Homo sapiens: one gene and its partner. The protein of the gene in region 1 purifies or fractionates together with the protein of each later gene. This does not show direct contact. Each region holds a gene or a part of one and is shown on either strand. Other genes may lie near its edges.

Region 1 (7,876 bases):
GCTGCTAGAGTGCCCAAGCTAGGTGCCGCAAAGTCCCGCGGCGAGTGCCATTGAGAGGTGAAGCCAGCTGGGCTTCTGGGTCAGGTGGGGACTTGGAAAACTTTTCTGTCTAGCTAAAGGATTGTAAACGCACCAATCACCACTCTGTGTCTAGCTCAAGGTTTGTAAACGCACCAATCAGTGCTCTGTGCCTAGCTAGAGGTTTGTAAACACACCAATCAGCACTCTGTGTCTAGCTAAAAGTTTGTAAATGCAACAATCAGTGCTGTGTGTCTCGCTAAAGGATCATAAAACGCACCAATCAGCACTCTGTCAAAACGGACCAATCAGCTCTCTGTAAAATGGACCAATCAGCAGGACGTGGCTGGGGCCAGATAAGAGAATAAAAGCAGGCCACCCAAACCAGCAGCAACAACCCGCTTGCGTCCACTTCCCTGCTGTTGAAGATTTGTTCTTTCACTCTTCACAATAAATCTTGCTGCTGCTCACTCTTTGGGTCCCTGCCGCCTTTATGAGCTGTAACACTCACCGCGAAGGTCTGCAGCTTCACTCCTGAAGCCAGCGAGACCACGAATCCACCGAGAGGGACCAACAACTCCGGATGGAAGGAACAACTCCAGACGCACTGCCTTTAAGAGCTGTAACACTCACAGTGAAGGTCTGCAGCTTCACTCCTGAAGCCAGCGAGACCACAAACCCATCAGAAGAAAGAAACTCCAGACATGTCTGAACATCAGAATGAACAAACTCCGGACACACCATCTTTAAGAACTATAACACCGCGAGGGTCCACAGCTTCATTCTTGAAGTCAGCGAGACCAAGAACCCACCAATTCTGGACACACTATGACAACCACTATCTTGGAATATGGTGTTAATCACTACTATGCATATTTTAATATAGGTATCTATAAACAAAAGAAGTACTGTTTTGCATGTTTTTAGACTTTACCCCCATAGCATTATTCGTCTGTACCTTGTTTTCTTAGCTCAAGATTTTGTTTGTTTTTCAATTCAGTCACGTTGTTTCATGCAGCTCTAGTCCATTCGTGAGAACTTTTCGATAGTATTACATTTTATTAATATCACAATTTATTTGTCCATTCTCAAACTAATGGAATGGTTTTTTTGTTTTCTTATTTTTTGTAAAGAAAAGGTTTCACTATGTTGCACAGGCAGGGTCTCACTTGTTTTCAATTTTGTTATTATGAAGCTGCAATAAACAATTCTTGAGAACAATACTTATTTCTAGAATATATTCCTAGAAAGAAAACTGCTAGGTCAAAGGATATATTTAATATATACCTCCAACTTCATCAACTAAGTTGATCTACAAAATAGTTACATATTTTTACATTCCCACCAAGTGGTATAAGAGTTCCTGTTTCTCTGCAACAATTATCCATATTGTCATATTATTTTGCCAAATTGATGAACATAAAGTGGTACCTCACTGGCTTACTTTTTCCTGATTTGTAAGATTAAGTATCATTTATTGACCTTTCAGGTTTCCTCACGTGAAATGCCTATAAACAGTACTGCCATTTTTTTTTTTTACTGATTTGTAATAGTTATTAAGAGAGTCTGGGTATCAACCCTATACTGATTACATGTGTTTCTAAATGCTCTCTGCAAAAACAAAAAACAAGATAAACCTGTTACCGATTCTGAAATCTAGTAAAATGTAAAAGCAAAGCTAATTCCTGACTTTTCAAAGTTCACAGCTACTTTCCAGACCTTTATATCAGTGTTTCTGAAACCTTTCCGTCCACTCACAGAAGATGAATTCCTCATTCAGGGCCAATACACACATACTTACACATAAACTGAAAAACAAGGCTGTAAATCAATTTCTTCTCAAGGATGGGTGACGTTTTCATAACCACAAACAATATACAAGGACAGATTGTCTCCATTATATACAGCCAACATTTTGGCTCACATTTTGGCTGTTACGTACATACATCATATAGCTTTCACAAGGTTCAGTAAGCAAGCGTCTATTTTGATTAATAACGGTTAAAACCTTTAACACTTGATAAAAAACCATCATATCCATCAGGATGTTTGCAACAATAATGAAGAGTGTCCACTCTACCCAATGAATTAAGAATTAAAGTACAAGCTCAGACTAAGCAAATGAAATTTTTTATTTTCAGTCGCACTAGGATAATTTTTTACAAAGTTGCTCTGCATACATGAACTGATTCTGAATATTTTAGTGACAGACATCTCAAAAAAGTTTACTTCATTTACAGGAACACTATCAAATGTTTTGCAAAACAAAGACACTGCATTAGGGCATATAATCATAGAATAGGAAAGGACTTTAGGTGACTTACTCTAAATCTCTCCTTTTCAGGTAAGGCATCTGCAACGCAGAAGTTATAAGAAACTTGCCCAATTGAGACCCTCTAAAATCTACAAATTCAGAGTCTTTTCCACTGCATTACCCATCTTCTTATATTAGACTTCTAAAACTATTCCTCTATTAATTTCACAAGAATAAGTTGCTGCGTTACAGAAATGACGGAAGTAACTCCCAAACCCACACCAATCTTTTTCTTTCCACTCCCCTACCTTCTCCCTCCCTTATCCTCCATTATCATTCACAGAATGAAAAAAATACCTGACCACCTGAATTTCTGGCCCTAATTGGGTGTGGAGTCCCAACCCCCTGCTACTGTTTCCGTGTTAAGCTAACCGGAGTTTTCTTTTTTAATTATTCATTCCTTTATTCAATAAATATCTAAGCCCAGACTTTGCAGAAGCGTGGTGCACGCAGCTCCTCCAAGCCCGCAGACCACCGCGCGCTGGCATCCCGACGCCGGGAAGCCGGGGGCGCTGGAGAAACGGGGTTCCCGGGGGCGCCTGGAGGCCGGCCGGGTGGTGGGAAGCGGCCGACATAAGCGGTTGACTCACCTTTCCGCAGCTCCCGCTCCCACACGGTGACGATGGGACGCGAGTGTTTACGGTGGTGAATGAGCCACAGGGACAAGGTCTGCACGCTCTGCTGCGAGTTGCTCAACTCCGACAGCTTCTTCTCCAGCGCCGCCTCAGAGAAGGCTGACATCCCTCCGACACCACGTTCACGCCGTCCCACGCGGTGGGGCCGAGGGGAGGAGAGTTTCGCCGCCCTAGCTGCGGCCTCGCCCCCTCACCCCACCCTTCCCCACGCTCTCACCACGGCCGCCGCTTCATCCAAGACCGGCCGCAAACCAGCAAGATGGCGTCCGGCCGGCAGTGACGTCACAGGGACCCACGCCCCGCCCCTCCCGCTGCAAGCCCTGGGAAAACGCGCGGCCGAGAAGTGGAACCGCCAGGCGGAAGGGGCGGAGTCGAAACAAGTGCAGGGGAGGCGGACAGGGGCGTGATGCCTGGGTTACTCTCAGAGGCATGGTGGGAGTTTGCCAGGCCTGAACCCTCCTTAATGGAAACTCTGTCAAAGAAGCAGTGATTACAGATCTCTACATAGGCATGTAAACTGGTATAAATTGGGGCAGGCACTTTAAAGACTATTTGCATGACCAATTACGGTTAAAAATACACCTTCCTAAATAGAGTATAGGATGGTGACCAGAGGCTGGGAAGGGTAGTGGGGGAGGGCTAAATAGAAGGACTAATAGAAGGACTAAATATAAATAGGACCTAGTATTTGATAGCATGACAGGGGACTAGAGTCAGTAATAATTTAATTGTACATTTTAAAATAACTAAAAGGATAATTGGATTGTTTGTAACACAAAGGATAAATGCTTAAAGGGATGGATACCCAACTTTGCATAATGCGATTATTAGGCATTGCCATGCCTGTACCAAAATATCTTATGTACTCCATAAATATATACACCTACTATGTACCCACAAAAATGAAAAATGAATAAAAATTTAAAAATTATAAGAATACTCTTTCCTAGCAATTTCACTAATTGCTGTCAGTGCTGGAAAAAACACCAGCATGTTTGCACCAGGAAGCTTATTCTAGGTGTTCAGTCCAACACAGTAACAGTGAAAAATTGGAACATTCACTGTTGCAGTCTACACAGATACGTCTATATTCCATAATACATGCAGCAGTTTAAAATATGGATTAATCCAAGATATGGTGGATTTGGAAGGGTTTGAGTGGGTTTTTATGAGGTTCTTTTTGAGAGAGGGCCTCACTCTCACCCAGACTGGAGTTCAGTGCCATGATCACAGCTTACTGCAACCTCGAATTCCTGGGCTCAAGCATTCCTCCCACCTTGGCCTCCCAAAATGCTGGGATTACAGGTGTGAGCCACCATGCCCAGCTGGATTTTTTTTTAATTACAGAAGCAAAAGTATAGTATACCACTTCTTGTTTAAAGGTATGTAGTTCATATGGGTTCACAAGTACGTAAACTCATGGCAAAGGTTTGGAGGAATACACACCACATGAATACTGGTCTCAGGGAGAGGATCAGAATTGGAGCCCTTAAATTGTGTCCATATTGTTTTCATTTTTACAAAAAGAATACGTGAATATATTACTTATATAGTTAAAAATTAATTACAGAAATCTCATTGTTAATCTAATGCATACACCATCATATTCTAAAATTTTTTTTGAGACCGGGTCTTACTCTGTTGCCCAGGCTGGAGTATGTGGTTCAGTCATGTTCACTGCAGTCTCGACCTCTGGGCTCAAGCAATCCTCCTCTGTGTCGGCCTCCCAAAGTGCTGGGAATACAGTTGTAAGCCACCATGCCTGGCCCTAAATATTAATACAAGAAACTTCCAGAAAGATACATAAGAAACCATAGGAATTCCTAAACTATCTTTTGACAAGCATCGTTCAAGAACTTTGCGGCCAGATGTGTGGCTCATGTCTATAATCCCAGCACTCTGGGAGGCCGAGGTGGGAGGATTGCTTGAGCCCAGGAGTTAGACACCAACCTGGGTAACATAGTGAGTCCCTGTCTTTACTAAAAATTTAAAAATTAGCTGGGCATGGTGGTATGCGCCTATGGTCCCAGGAAGCTGAGGTAGGAGGATCACCTGAACCTGAGAGGCAGAGGTTGCCGTGAGTCATGATTGTGCCACTGCACTCCAGCCTGAGCAACAGAGCAAGACCCTGTCTCAAAAAATGAAAAGGAAGGGCAGGGCACGGTGGCTCAAGCCTGTAATCCCAGCACTTTGGGAGGCCGAGGTGGGTAGATCACCAGGTCAGGAGTTCGAGACCAGCCTGGCCAACATGGTGAAATCCCATCTCTACAAAAAGTACAAAAATTAGCTGGGCATGGTGGTGGGCACCTATAATCCCATCTACTCGGGAGGCTGAGGCAGGAGAATTGTTTGAACCTGGAAGGCGGACGTTGCAGTGAGCCAAGATCGCGCCATTGCACTTCCAGCCTGGGCAACAGTGTGAGACTACATCTCAAAAAAAAAAAAAAAAAGAAAAGAAAGAGAAAGAAAAAAGAAAAAGAGAAAGAACTTCCAACAAGTAGGAACAGAATATGTATATCTGTGCCTGAGGTTCAGAGATATCGTTGTAGAGGTGAAGTTCACTCTTCCTTCACCTCTTTTCACTCCAATATCTATTCCTATCTTTACATTTCTTTCTTTCTCCATTATACATCTTTTTGTTTATCCAATCTATTTAGCCTAGTTTTTAACTTTAACTTAGTTCGAGTTTAACCTATCTTTTTTTTTTTTAAAAGGAGACAAGATATCGCTCTGTTGCCCAGGATGGAGTGCAGTGGCATCATCACAGCTCACCGCAGCCTCAACCTCCCAGGCTCAGGTGATTCCCCCCACCTCAGCCTACCAAGTAGCTAGGACTACAGGTGTACCATCATGCCCAGCTTATTTTTAAATTTTTTTTTTTAGAGATGGGGTCTCGCCATGTTGCCCAGGCTGGTCTTGAATTCTCAGGCTCAAGCCATCCTCCTGTCCCTGCCTCCCAAAGTGCTGGGATTATAGAACGTGAGCTACTGAGGCTGTCCAAACCTATCTATCCCCTGAGACCTTAAAAGTATCTTCAACAATATTCCATTCCATTCCACCAAAGACTACTTCCCATCTCCCAGTGTCTTCACCTGAGATTTCCACTCTTCTCATTCTCTATCTCTGTCTTCCTCTGTGTCTCAATTCTACCTAAAATTTCAGCTTAAATTCTGCCTTAAATTTCAGCTTTCTTTTCTTTCCACTCAGTCAATGTTAGATTCCTTCCTTGTGTTTTTTAATTACTGAATGCCTTATTTAGCACTTACACTACTAGTCTATGTTATTTACAATTTAATATATGTATTCTCTCTCTCCAGCTAGATTTAGCACTCCGTGACTCAGTCATAGCACCAACTCTTCTGTCTTCCTTGGTCCACAGTCTAATCTGGCTGTCCCTGCTCCAGGCTCCCAGAACATTCTATGTATGAATGTACCATGGCTTTTGGCACTAGGATGTTAGATCTACATTTATTGACGTTGTTACTTATAGCTATATTTTCAAAATATTGACTGTAACTATTTATACCTTTAGATACTTATGACTCGTTTTTATATCTTGTCTCTAAATTGGAAAGCAGGAGGTAAAATGGTCTCCATTCACAGAAGATATGATCTTAGATATAGATCTTGAAGAATTCACCCACAAAATTTAGAGATGATAAACAAATTCAGCAAAGTTGTGGGATATAAGATCAACACACAAAAATGAGTTGTATTTATATACACTGATAATAAATAATTTGAAAATGACATTAAGAAAAAAATCTTATTTACAATAACATCAAAAAAGGCTGAAATACTATGGAATAAATTTAGGCAAGGAAGTATAAGACTTGTATCCTGAAAACTACAAAATATTGGTGAAATATATCAAATACCTAAATAAATAGAAAGATATCCTGTGTTCATGGATTGGAGGATTTAATATTCTTAAGATGGCAATAATACCCCCAAGCAATCTTCAAATTCAATGCAATTCATGTTAAAATACCAATGGCCTTTTATGCAGAAATGGAAAACCTGACCTTAAAATTCATATGGAATTGAAAGGAGCCCTGAATAATCAAAACAATCTTGAAAAAGAAAAACAAAGTTGGAGGATTCACAGTTTCTTATTTCAAAAATTACTTCAAAGCTACAGTTATATCAAAACATATATCAGGCTAGGCGTGGTGGCTCACGCCTGTAATCCCAGCACTTTGGGAGGCCAAGGGGCTGGGGGCGGGGGGGGGGGTGGATCACAAAGTCAGGAATTCGAGACCAGCCTGGCCAATATGGTGAAACACCGTCTTTACTAAAAATACAAAAATTAGCTGGGTGTGGTGGCGTGTGCCTGTAGTCCCAGCTGCTCTGGAGACTGAGGCAGGAAAATCACTTGAACCCGGGAGGTAGAGGTTGCAGTGAGCCAAGATCGCGCCACTGCACTCCAGCCTGGGCGACAGAGCGAGACTCCGTCTCAAAAAAAAACAAAAACAAACAAAAAAAGCACACAAAACAGTGTGGTCTAGGCACAGTGGCTCATGCCCGTAATCCTAGCACTTTGGGAGGCCGAGGCGGGCGGATCTGTTGAGGTCAGGAGTTCGAAACCAGCCTGGACAACATGGTGAAATCCTGTCTCTACTTAAAATACCAAAAAATTCTCTGGGCGTGATGGCGGGCACCTGTAATGCCAGCTACTCAGGAGGCTGAGGCAGGAGAATGGCGTGAACCCAGGAGGCAGAGGTTGCAGTGAGCCGAGATTGCACCAGTGCACTCCAGCCTGGGTGACAGAGTGAGACTCCATCTCAAAAAACAAACAAACAAACAAACAAATAAACAAACAAAAAACCAGTGTGATATATTATTCAGCCATAAAAAGAGATGAAATAATAATGCATGATACAAGACAGATTAACCTCAAAAATATTAT
Region 2 (7,333 bases), on another chromosome or scaffold:
AAAAAAAGTGGGCCGAAGACCTTAACGGACACATCATCAAAAAAAGATACAGAGATGGCAAATAAACATATGAAAAGATGCTCCACATCAGGCTGGGCACAGTGGCTCACACCTGCAATCCCAGCACTTTGGGAAGCCAAGGTGAGCACATTACCTGAGGTCGGGTGTTCAAGACCAGCCTGACCAACATGGAGAAACCCTGTGGCTACTAAAAATACAAAATTAGCCAGGCATGGTGGCGCATGCCTGTGATCCCAGCTACTTGGGAGGCTGAGGCAGGAAAATCGCTTGAACCTGGGAGGCGGAGGTTGCAGTGAGCCAAGATCGTGCCATTGCACTCCAGCCTGGGCAACAAGAGCAAAACTCCTTCTCAAAAATTAAAAAAGTCCATGCACAGTGGCTCATGCCTGTAATCCCCACACTTTGGGAGGCCGAGGCGGGTGGATCACCTGAGATTGGAAGTTCAAAACCAGCCTGACCAACACGGAGAAACCCCATCTCTGCTAAAAATACAAAATTAGCTGGGCGTGGTGGCACATGCCTGTAATCCCAGCTACTCAGGAGGTTGAGGCAGGAGAATTGCTTGAACCCAGGAGGCAGAGGTTGTGGTCAGCCAAGATCACTCCAGCCTGGGCAACAAGAGCAAAACTCCGTCTCAAAAAAATAAAAAAATGCTCCACATCATATGTCATTAAGGAAATGCAAGTTAAAACAACAATTAGATACTGCTACACACCTATTAGAGTGGCCAAAATCCAAAAGATTAACAACATTAAATGCTGGTGAGGATGTAGAACTGATGGAAATGCAAAATAGTAAATCCACTTTGGTAGGTTGATGATTTTTTCTTTTTTTAAGTAGCTGGGATTACAGGCATTCGCCAACATGCCCAGCTAATTTAGCATTTTTAGTAGAGACGGGGTTTCTCCATGTTGGTTAGGTTGGCCTCGAACTCACGACCTTAGGTGATCTGCCCATCTCGGCTTCCCAAAGTGCTGGGATTACAGGCATGAGCCACTGCGCCTGGCCGATTTCTTTCTTTCTTTTTTTTTTTTTTTTTGAGAGGGAGTTTCAGTCTTGTTGCCCAGGCAGTAGTGCAATGGCGTGATCTTGGCTCACTGCAACATCTGCCTCCCAGGTTTAAGCAATTCTTCCGCCTCAGCCTCCCAAGTAGCTGGGATTACAGGTGCCTGCCACCATGTCCAGCTAATTTTGCTTTGTTTTATTTTATTTTATGTATGTATGTATGTACTTATTTTGAGACAAAGTCTCACTCTGTCACCCAGGGTGGAGTGCAGTGGCGCGACCTTGGCTCACTGCAACCTCCGCTGCCCAGGTTCAAGCAATTCTCCTGCCTCAGCCTCCTGAGTAGCTGGGATTACAGGCATGTGCCACTGCGCCCGGCTAATTTTTTGTAATTTTAGTAGAGAGGGGGTTTCGCCACATTGGTCAGGCTGGTCTTTAATTCTTGACCTTGTGATCCACCCCACTTGGCCTCCCAAAGTGCTGGGATTACAGGTGTGAGCCACCGCACCTGGCCCTGTATTTTTAGTAGAGATGGGGTTTCACCATGTTGGTCAGGCTGGCCAGTTTCTAACTCTTGACCTCGGGCGATCCACCGGCCTCGGCCTCCCAAAGTGCTGGGATTACAGGCATGAGCCACCGCGCCCGGCCTTAGGTTGATGATTTCTTACAAAAGTAAACATATTCTTACCATATGATGTAACAATTGTGCTCCTTCGTGTTTACCCAAGGAGTTGAAAATATATTCACCCCAAAAGCTGTACAGAGATGTTTGTAACAGCTTTATTCATACTTGCAAAAATGTGGAAGCAACCAAGATGTCCTTCAGGTGAATGGATAAATAAAACTGGCACATCTGGACAGTGAAATATTATTCAGCACTAAAATGAAATGAGCTATCAAGCCATGAAAAGACATGGAAGAAACTGAAATGCATTTTTTTTTTTTTTGAGGTGGAATCTCATTCTGTTGCCCAGGCTGGAGTGCAGTGGCCTGATCTTGGCTCACTGCAACCTCCGCCTCCCAGGTTCAAGTGATTCTCCTGCCTCACCCTCCGGAGTAGCTGGGACTACAGGCGTGCGCCACCATGCACGGCTAATTTTTGTATTTTTAGTAGAGACGGGGGTTTCACTATGTTGGCCAGGCTGGTCTCGAACTCCTGACCTCGTGATCCACCCACCTCGGCCTCCCAAAGTGCTGGGATTACAGGCATGAGCCACCGTGCCCCGCCTGAAATGCATATTATTAAGTGAAAAAAGCCAGTCTGAAAAGGCTACATACTGAATGATTTCACCTATATGACATTCGGGAAAAGGCAAAACTATGAAGACAGTAAAAAGATTAGTAGTCGCTAGGGGAATAAGGGGGAGGGAAGGATGAATAGGTGGAACACAGAGGTTTTTAGAGCAGTGATACTGCTCTGTATGATACTGTAATGGTGGATACATGCACATTTGTCCAAACTCAAGGTATAACACCAAGAGCGAACCCTAATGTAAACTATGGGCTTTGGGTGATAATGTGTCAGTGTAGGTTTGTCAGTTGTAACAGATGTATCGTTCTGGTGCGTGACATTGATAATGGGGGAGGGTATTCATGTGTGGGGGCAGGTGGTATATGGAATTCCTTGTGCTTTCCACACAATTGCCGTGAATCTAAAACTGCTCTAAAAATAGTCTATAAAAAAGTGGGTCTTTGGCTAGAGTTACAGAAAAAAAAAAAATGTGGGGTCAGGACCAGGCATGGCGGCTCAAGCTTATAATCCCAGCACTTCGGGAGGCTGAAAGCAGGAGGACTGCTTGAGGCTAGGAGTTTGAGACCAGCCTGGGCAACATAGGGAGACTCCCCCTCTCAAAAAAATGTTGTTGTTGTTGTTTTGTTTTTTTAGCTAGGTGTGGTGGTGCAGGCCTGTAGTCCCAGCTACTTGTGCTGCTGAGGCAGGAGGACCACTTGAGTCTGGGGGATTGAGGCTGCTGTGCGATATGATAGTGCCACTGCACTCTAGCCTTGGCAGGGACAGAGCGAGACTGTATTTTAGAGCCTTTGCACTTGCTGTTCCTAATGCCAGCATGTTCCGCTCCCCGTCTCGCATATCTGCTTGGTTGCTTTTTTCTCAATGTTCAGATCGAGTTATTTCTTTCGAGAAGACTTCCTGGTTCACCATACCACCATTCTTATACTGGCGCGTGCGTGCCGTGCACACGTACACACACGCGCGCACACACACACACCCCTTTCTCCCTTACCCTGCTTCACCTTTTTACAGAATTTAATACTGTCTGAAATGTACTTGTTGGTGGTGTCCTGCCACTAAATCCCGGAGGGAACGGATTTTTGTCTGTTTTGCTCCCCATGATCTAAAACAGTACTTGGCACAAGAGGTTCAACAACTCGTTGAATTAATGAATAGTGGACATGAACTTGACAAAACAGGTTCCCTGCCTCAAGAGGCATGGCCGCAGTGAGGAGACGTTAAAAGAATTAAAACTGTATATGTTTAGTGGGAACACAGGAGCCTTTAAATTAGCTCAGAGGATTTACATAGATACCTGCGATAAAATGGTTCGTATAAGGTTCATATAATAGTTACGTAAGACTCTTGAAAACTGTAATGTATTATGCAATTTTAAGATTGTATCATAGCTGGCGAAAATGAGGTCACATCTTGCCATTCTTTTTTCGCCTCGAAAAATTTTATGAGGAAAATTTCCTTTCACTTCCTCATTTATTTCCTTTTCCTGTAACCTAAATGGTCAAGCGGCTGTGAATGTTATCTTCTATGGGCAGCAATAAATACGGTTTGGTGTCGGAGTCTGCGTAGTGAATGGCTCACTGGATCTGGCGCATGCGCATCTTTTGTGGTGCCGCAAGATGGCTGCCAGCCATTTTGTCGCGCGTTGCTCCTCCGAGGAGTTGGGGGCGATGGCTGCAGCCCCCTGAAGACTAACAGTGGTCTCAGTGGTGGGAATTTTCTGTCTCTGTTGTGTGAGCTGAACACACCCAAGAGAGCGGCCAAAAGCAGCAAAGGGCGGGGCAGGGGAACCCCCCCACCCGGCTAACCTTAGTTATACCAGCTCCCTCACCCATCCCTCCCAGTTTTTCCTTCCATCCCGTTACACGCTTATCTTCTGCGCAGGCGCAAAAATAATCGTAGCGCCTCCTGGGCCCTGGGGGCTTCAGAGCTCCTGCGCGCGCTTGTGGTTCTCCACTCCTGATTGGTCAGGTTGCCCCGCCATCACGCCTCCCTCTGCTTTCAAGGTTGAGAAGGAAGCAGGGGTAGGGGGGTGGGGCCAAGTGGCGCGTGCGCGATACTGTTGCTGCCCCTTTGCTGCTATTGCGTTGCAAAAAAAATCCTGACTAGGTAGCCTTGGACCTTTTCTGTGCTAGCGAGTCTAAAGGAAAGAAAGATTTCTGCAACTGAAGGGGCAGTCGGGTAGTATTACATTTAAGATATTAACGCCCGACCTGGCTCACAGGAGTGTGGGAACAGGGGCGGGGAAGGGCCTTAGCACTGAGAGCCGAAAAGTATAAAACGATTAGTTTCGGCGTCAGGCGTTTTGAAAGGCTTTGCAGGTCCTGTTTTCTGCGTAATTTTTCCGTGATTACTGACTGGTTTAAACACGACCCCTTGAACAATATTGATAAAACCTCCGAGACCCGCAGCCCCTCCTTGCAGCGTGTAGGAGCTGCCAGCGTGCCCAGCAGCTGGTGTTCCCGTCCGTACCTCCAGAAGAGCCCAGCGCGTGCACCATCCCCACCCCCTAGCTTCCCTCCCCACCTACGGCTTTCACGCACTCGCAGTGATTGTTTTGCCCGCTCCCGCCGCCGCCGCCGCCGCCGCCGCCAGAGGAGCAGCAGCGCTTGTGCAAACCGGGAAGATGGCGGCCGGCGGCGGCGGAGGCAGCAGTAAGGCCTCCTCCTCGTCGGCCTCTTCGGCAGGGGCTCTGGAGTCCTCGTTGGATCGAAAATTCCAGTCGGTAACCAACACCATGGAGTCCATTCAAGGCTTGTCGTCTTGGTGTATAGAGAACAAAAAACACCACAGTACTATCGTCTATCATTGGATGAAGTGGCTCCGGAGATGTGAGTGTTGGGGGTGACTAGGGAAGGGAAGACTGGGGAAATGGAAGGAAGTGTGGCCTGAAACGCTTGGGGTTTTCCCACGGAGCCGCAGCATTTGGTTGGGGTTGTTCACATTAAAGGTTTGACCCCAGTGGTCCCAAACCCAGACTCCATTCCTAGCCAGGATTGTCCTGAATTGCAGGAGACTCATTTCTTGGGTTTTTTAGCCATTGAATTGTTGTGACCTTGGGCCGTTGGGCCCAGATCCATGGAGATTTACGTATATTGTTTTTAATATTTCAGAGCCTTGTAAGGTGTATTGATTTTTCCGAACCTTCGCGGAAATTGTAGCGTCTGTTTATTTCTTACAGGCCTTGACGTGTTAATGATTTCTGGCTTTCCTGATGGTAGGCGAGCTGTGGTTTTAAGCAGTAGTAAATCCAGTGATGTTTAATGAGGAGTGCCTTGTCTGGATGAATGTATCTAAAACTTGTGATGTGTAGTAAGGAGAGCCTTACCTGGATGAATGTTAAGAAGCAGCATGAGCTCTACATAGATCTGAGGCACCACCGGGTTTTCCCTGTACCTGTGTTTGCTGCAATAAAATACAGGTTTCTTGGATACTGACCAGAAACAACTGCGATACAGTAGTCAGTATCATCGTTAATACCTTCAAATATAAAGCGTGTCCAGTTCCTCTTTTTTTTTGAGACGGAGTTTTGCTCTTGTCGCCCAGGCTGGAGTGCAGTGGCGCGATCTCGGCTCACTGCAACCTCCACCTCCCGGGTTCAAGCGATTCTCCTGTCTCAGCCTCGCGAGTAGTCGGGATTACAGGCGCCCGCCACCATGTCCGGCTAATTATTTGTATTTTTAGTAGAGACGGGGTTTCATCATTGTGGCCTGGCTGGTCTCGAACTCCCGACCTCAGGTGATCCACCTGCCTCGGCCTCCCAAAGTGCAGGGATTACAGACGTGAGCCCCCCGTGCCCGGCCCCGTTACTTTTTAATTACCTGAAATACCTTTTTACACAATTGAGTTGATCTCATGGGTAATGTGCACAGGAAATGTGCTTTTTGAATATGTAGTACCTTTTTCTCCAGTTATGTTTTTTTTGTCTTTATCCTGGAGATTTTTCCATTTTGCTGCTTTACTGCAGAAACGAGCTCTGTTAAAGCATGGATTGTTTGCAGAACGTTTCAAATCTTATAGGAGGAAGTGTGGAGAAGTTACTGTTTCCTGCTGAGAAGAGAGGGTTAACTCATACTCCATATACATCTATTAGAATTTTTCTTTGCTTCCTGCCTGCGGCATTTCACCAGTGAGACCCATCATCCAGTTATTCTGCCTTATTCCACTTCTGCCATTGCTCCTGTAGTGTTTTGATTTGTTTACCTTTTAGAGAACAGATAGATAAAACTTGCAAAATTATAGGCCCCATGCTTCGAACTATTTGTGTTTAAAGTTTTGGGAGGGATGTTTTGTGGTTCTTTGAATAATAATGCAGAGAAATTAGTAGATACCGGACAGAATTACCTGTGTTTACCAATAACCGATCAAAGAGTTATTTTCTTGCCCAGAGGTAAAATTATAACGTGCAAAAACATCAAATATGATAACAGTCATCATTGAAGACTCACATGTTAAGTATCTGCTATGTGCCCAGTCATCTCATTGTACCTTAAAATCGTCTGAGAAGTAGATTTTTTAATCACTGATTTACAAACGAGGAAACTAAGACTCGGAAATTAAGTTGCTTAAGGTTACTCAGTAAAATGGTGGGGTTAGGGTTTGACTTCATCATTAACTTTGTAAAATAATGTTTAACGTTCTTGGTATACCAGTGATATATTGCAAACAGTTCTAATGTGAGTGAGAGAACCTCTTCTCCACCCTATTTTAAAACATTTTTACTGACCTATGCAAGCATTTTACATTTCCTCACCTTGGGCTCTGGGGCTTTAACTGTATGGTTACATCATTTGCAAGAATAAGTTGGTCCCTGTCCCGTCTCTGCTGTGTGGGATCACAAGCGACAATTACAGTTTTTTTTCTAGTCAGCAATAATGAGATAAAATGAAGCCAGAATTTTTTACCTCAGCTGTTGTTGCTATTGTGCCTGAGCTTATTTCCTTTATTGATATCTTAAGAGTGAAAAAATGAATGCTCCAGGAGGGCAGTGTGTCAGTTGAAGTGCATTGTGTATAGTTTATATAGTTAAGTGCTTTTGGCTAAATATGATGTTGTTTT

Evidence for each region.
Region 2: the proteins of RPRD1A (region 1) and RPRD2 purify together in Homo sapiens (affinity purification with mass spectrometry; 2 studies listed by BioGRID and IntAct, with this or other methods). This does not show direct contact.

Annotation. Positions count from the first base shown.
Region 1 is NC_000018.10:36,064,332-36,072,207, forward strand, and holds the start of RPRD1A (regulation of nuclear pre-mRNA domain-containing protein 1A), read right to left. Parts: upstream 3,229-7,876; 5' UTR 3,074-3,228; coding exon 2,923-3,073; intron 1-2,922. UniProt on the Homo sapiens protein: Interacts with phosphorylated C-terminal heptapeptide repeat domain (CTD) of the largest RNA polymerase II subunit POLR2A, and participates in dephosphorylation of the CTD by RPAP2.
Region 2 is NC_000001.11:150,359,814-150,367,146, forward strand, and holds the start of RPRD2 (regulation of nuclear pre-mRNA domain-containing protein 2), read left to right. Parts: upstream 1-4,333; 5' UTR 4,334-4,901; coding exon 4,902-5,106; intron 5,107-7,333.